2 separate regions of the Homo sapiens genome follow, and region 2 is linked to region 1. Evidence: fine-mapped expression QTL. Tissue or cell type: whole blood. Region 1 holds a variant in brackets; the other region holds the start of a gene. All regions are shown on one strand. Distances are from middle to middle.

Evidence for each region. PIP is the estimated chance that this variant, and not a neighbour inherited with it, causes the effect. A credible set is the group of variants that fine-mapping cannot tell apart.
Region 2: it holds the start of FCRLB, and the variant in region 1 is the best candidate, but not a certain one, in a credible set for the expression of FCRLB in whole blood (INTERVAL, PIP 0.87).

Annotation. Positions count from the first base shown.
Region 1 is chr1:161,619,157-161,622,008 of GRCh38, forward strand. It overlaps the pseudogene RPS23P9. Among named protein-coding and RNA genes, the nearest start is that of TRL-CAA6-1, 8.6 kb to the left of the region's middle. The variant C/T (reference allele first, on the strand shown) is at 1,403.
Region 2 is chr1:161,720,423-161,723,071 of GRCh38, forward strand. FCRLB (Fc receptor like B) reads left to right here and starts at 1,122. Exons shown (of 8, transcript NM_001002901.4): 1 at 1,122-1,239; 2 at 1,333-1,428; 3 at 2,231-2,281; 4 at 2,567-2,587. The coding sequence starts at 2,251. RefSeq lists enhancers at 1,904-2,003, 2,084-2,183.

The DNA of each region.
Region 1 (2,852 bases):
AGAAAAGAACCTACATTGAAATATTGGGTGCTGGTTCCCCTGATACAGAACTTCATCATTTTTTTCAATAAAATTCAAGCAATCATCATCAGGTACAAAGGCTGTGATTTTCTTGCTGTTCTCTCATCTGCCTCACAGCCTCCAACCTGTAACAAGAGGATCAGCTGTGCCAGTGGAGACCACAGCATCTAGCTTATGCTGGATGATCAGCTTGGCCCTGGCACACTTCTCAGTGGCAGAGCTGGGCTATTTGGCTCCAATCCCTACTTTTTCCAGCCCAATTCCCTTTGCATGAGAAGCACCTCCAAAAGGGCTGGTCTTCAGGACTGTGCCCGAATGGGCTTTCTTGTACCATTTACCATGCCACTTCTGATCCTGTCGGTGACAATGGAGCTTCCTGGAGGTAGACAGTCCATGACACTTGCCCATATTGCCAGCTCCACAGGTCTGAGCAAAAGAACAGAGACAAAAATTTAAAATAAAAGAAATGACTCTAGGCCTGGTACGGTGGCTCTTGCCTGTAATCCCAGCACTTTGGGAGTCTGAGGCGGGAGGATCACCTGTGGTCAGGAGTTTGAGACCAGCCTGGCCAATATAGCGAAAGCCCATCTCTGCTAAAAATACAAAAAAATTAGCTGGGCGAGGTGGCAGGCGCCTATAGTCCCAGCTACTCGGGAGGCTGAGGCAGGAGAATGGCGTGAACCTTGCGGGGCGGAGCCTGCAGTGAGCCGAGATCGCGCCACTGCATTCCAACCTGGGCGACAGCGAGACTCTGTCTCAAAAAAAAAAAAAAAAACACAAAAATTAGCCGGGCATGGTGGCCCATGACTGTAATCTTCTCAGCTACTCAGGAGGCTGAGGCAGGAGAATTGCTTGAATGTGGGAGGTGGAGGTTGCAGTGAGCCGAAATCGCACCACTGCACTCCAGCCTGGGCAACAGAGCAAGACTCCATCTCAAAAAAAAAAATTAATTAAAAAAAAATAAATGACTCTAGTTTAAAGATCATTTGGCAAATTTATTTATTTACTTATTTAGTATACATATGATACACATATATGTATTTTACATAAGATATAAAATATGTGTACACATAAACATATATGCATATATAATTTCTGCATATGCATATCTATGTTTGCATGTCTTCTCATTTCACTAAACATCATTGAAAACTTCCACCTGCAACTAAACTGGAGCCCACTGATGACAGAGGATGGCAGGGCAGAAAGAAAGGAGATTCTGTGTGGAGGCTATGGAGAGGCCCTGGGTCTTGGGCAGTATAGAAAATGGCTTTTGTCCAAGTGTTCTTATTGCTCAATTCCCACCTATGAGTGAGAACATGCGGTGTTTGATTTTCTGTCCTTGCGAAAGTTTGTTTAGACTGATGGTTTCCAGCTTCAT[C/T]TATGTCCCTACAAAGGACATGAACTCATCCTTTTTTATGGCTGCATAGTATTCTATAGTGTATATGTGCCACATTTTCTTACTCCAGTCTATCATTGATGGACATTTGGGTTGGTTCCAAGTCTTTGCTATTGTGAATATTTCCGCAATAAACTTACGTGTGCACGGGTGGGGAACATCACACACCGGGACCTGTCGTGGGTGGGGAAGGGGGGAGGGATAACATTAGGAAAAACACCTAATGTAAATGACGAGTTAATGGGTGCAGCACACCAACATGGCACATGTATACATATGTAACAAACCTGCACCTTGTGCACATGTAGCCTAGAACTTGAAGTATATATATATGAATTAAAGAAAAAAAAGGCTTTTTAGACCCAGCACTGACGAGATTCCCTAGGTCGATGGTGGTGGAATTAGGGGTCTCTGTCCTCAGACATTTGGATCTGGATATGTCAGCATGAAAGTCCTTAAGTTGCAGGCATTTTTTAAAAAATATTTTTTATTTCCAAGCTGAATACCATTAATTGGAATGTTACAGGCTTTTTAAGCTCCGTGTTCTGTCTGCATGGCTAATATGCCCGTAGAAACCTTTCAAAACAGCGTGGGTTGAAGACTAATTTTGTAACACAAAACTCACTTACTTAGATATCACATTTTGCTGGACGTGATTGGACCTGAAAGAAAATATTTTTAATGCTCACGACAATAACCTTTTTATGAGTCAGCACTAAACGTGTGCACATGCATACATAAGTTGTCTACATCAGCAAAAAAAGCTTATCGTCGTATTTCTCTGACCAAAATCAACGGAACCCCCGAAATCACAGAGAGCATCCATTTTGGATTCCCCGAAGACCCTTCGTTCCTGCATCCTCTTCTGCTCTCCCTTTCTCAGCCTCTTCTGCTGGAAGCTGAGTCCTGCTCCAGATCTAGGCAAGTGCTAGCGCGGAAAAAAGACCTGCCTCGCTCAGGGCTGTGAGCCGCGCCCTGAAGCACGGAAAGCTAATTGTGTCACTGGTTTCAAATCAACTTCAAATTTTTTGGAGACGTAAGAGTGCTGAGCATTTTTTCTTCAGTGAAGTGACTTGGCAGCCCAGGTCGCCAACGCCCGTTTCTGTAGCGCGATCGGTTAGCGCCTTCGGCTGTTAAACGAAAGGTTGGTGGTTCGTTCCCACCCCGGGACAGAAGTCCCACTTTTGTGAACCTTGAGTTTTTGAAACTTTCACTGAAAAAAACCGCGTGCGATGCTATCCGCCGGGAGCGCTGGAGCCTTGGCTCTCAAAACCAGCCGCGGTGCTAACCGCCGGGATCCCTGGCAGCTGACCTCCGCGTTGTGTGGTTCCCAATGTCCTCTTCTGCCTTAGTGCTGTACGGGTAATTTTGAGGTATTTGGTTTTTCCGACTAGGGTTGTAGTGATAACTCTTAGCTGCTTAACCACTGCAA
Region 2 (2,649 bases), 100 kb after region 1:
CATGAGCAGCATCTTGAATCCCTGACAATCAGAGAGATAAGAGAACAGATTTTGGAGACAGACTTCTATTCAAATCCCAGTTTCATCATCTCAGTTTCCTCATATGCAAAATTGGGATATTAATAATTCTTCCTCAAAGGGCCTTACAAGAATTAAGTGCAGTAATATCTGTGAAGCACTTAGCATAGTGCCTGCCACATGCCGAGACACTAAAGTGAGCTGTCATCAGCAACAACAGCATTAGTTCATTACTGTAATTATCACTGAGAACACTTTATCACCAGAATGCTTATCAAATGGTGACATATATTGTCCAGATGTTATGTTGTGATAGGCCTCAAATAATTGCTCAAGTTACAAATGATAATTTCTAAATTTTTCTGCATTGTAAAGGAGTGAAGAATTAGAAATTCTGGGGAAAAGTCCTAGATGGAGTAAAAAGACTCACTTTGGGAAAAACTTAGAGGAGAGCCTAGAATAAATAAATATTTCGTGGGAAATTTTTCAAGTCAAATTCTGAGCACTGTATAATATGAACAGTATGGATGGTTCCAGAGGTTTCTAGGGACGACTATACAGTTCACAAAGTTTTGGTGTACTAAGGTTTCTTCTGAATCGAGTAAAGGGGCTGAGATCTGTGCTCTGGGGGATGAGAAGCCAAAATAGAGCCAGCTTGTGTTGCCTAAGAGGACAGCTGACAACTGCATTGCATTCTTACCATTGAGGTGGTGGCTTGGTGCAGAAGTCAGACCTCTGTGGCAGGCTGTGGATCATGTGGGAAGCCACACACTGGCCCTGAGACGAGGAATTATTAGGATGGAGGGGAAGCACAAGAGTGCTGGTCAGCCCAGGCACTCCTAAAGCAGGCAGGTGATCATCCCTGTTCCCAGTAATTAGTTCTTCTCTGCCTCCCCTACTCTTGGGCACATTGTCAAATATGTCCCTACTTTGTTTGAAATCTACAGGACTCTATCTCTTTTATCAAAACCTGCACTCAAAACATGATCTGAAGTGACCAGCATAATTTAAATGACCAGTCACATTTTCCTAAGAGGCATTTGCATTTTTAAAAGGGGCTAGTCCATTAAGCAAAATATGAGGGGACTCTCAGAGTGGAACTTCAGGCATCAGCAAGAGGGGAAGATACTATCTTCCTGGGAGTTGACAGTACCTGATAATTGATCTCCTTCCCATCAGATTTCCAAGGGATCAAGGTGCCCCGGTTCTAAACAACCACAGGTAAGGACAGGATAGAGTCCAAGGAGACACACTATCAGGCTGGAAAATTCATTAAGTATTTACATGAAAATTCAGGTTCTCCTCATTGCTCAGGTACGGTCACATGGCTCAGAAAGCACAAGAAGTAGAGCCCCGAGGTCAGATCTGAGAGGCTTCTGAGGGGCCGATGCAGTGACTTCTCTGCTGCAGGTCAGGAGTTCTGGAACTGGGGCGTGGCTGGGGAGGGGTTGCAGGGAAGGGTGGGAGGAAGGAAGAAAAGAACAAGTGATTGGAAGTGCCACAGGATGAGCTCATTGGGATGGGTAGGAAAGAAGAGTTTTCTAACTTCTTAAGAATTTAAGAATTTATGAGAACTCAAGATTTCAGGAAGGGAGGAAGAAGAAACACATTGCATTTCTATCCTTGACTGGGGAACTAGATGATAGGGATGTGAAGGGTGGTTGGTGAGTCATGCCTTTTCGTCTACTCATTGTGGCAGGATGTGAGCTCTGGGGGCAGGCAACCGAACACTGACCTCTCTAGGTCTCATGCCAATGTCTGTCATCAGGAGTGAGCAGGAAAAAGGTCCTTAAGGACATGAGGCCGTGTCTTCCTCAGCTGAGCCTTGCAGGGCTGGCTGGAAGGTGGAGAAGGGATGGGATGGGAGTGGGATGTCAATGGGAGCCTGAAGATGGCGGGGTCATCTGCTGGAGCCTGGGGTTCTATGGGGCTCTCTTGTGCTGTGGAGGGCACAAGTTCTGCAGGCCTTCCTTTCAGTAGTCAGGGCTGGCCTGAGCTGTGAGGTGGCTGTAGATGCGGTAGATGAGACAGTGCCTGGCACTTGGGATACCTGATATTCAGCCTGTCTCCCACTGGTTCTGGTCTGCTATCTTCAGGAACTAGGAGTGGGTGGGAGAAGCAGCAATGTCTCCTAGTACTCAGTGGCATCCACTGGCCACATTCTTTCTCTCTGTTCCCCATCTCATGCCAGTGCATCTCCATCCTTCTGCAGCTGCTGCAGTCAGATCCATCATGTGGCCACTGACAGCCCTTCTGCTCCTGGGTGAGTCCACAGTGAGGCAGCAGAAGAGCTTTGGGTGGTGGAGAATAGGGTGGACCAAGGTATGGGGAGAGGAGGGTGGGTATCCAATCCTCAGTTTCCAAGTGGTTCATTATCTTTTTTTGGAGGGGTGAAGAAGAAGGGGCTTTCTCAGAGCTTGGGAAACCAGGGGCAGAAGAAGAAAAACAGGTTTTGGGACCATTCAGCCTTTCTTGTCGTCAAGAGTCTCTCTCCTCTCATCGCCAATATTCTCCTTCTCCTTCCTCTTCCTTCTTTCCTGTTCTGCAGTTCCAAGCAGTGGGCAAGCTGGTGAGTCTTATAAATTTCTCATCCCAATTTTCTACAGCTTCCACTCCAACCCCCTAAGTGAC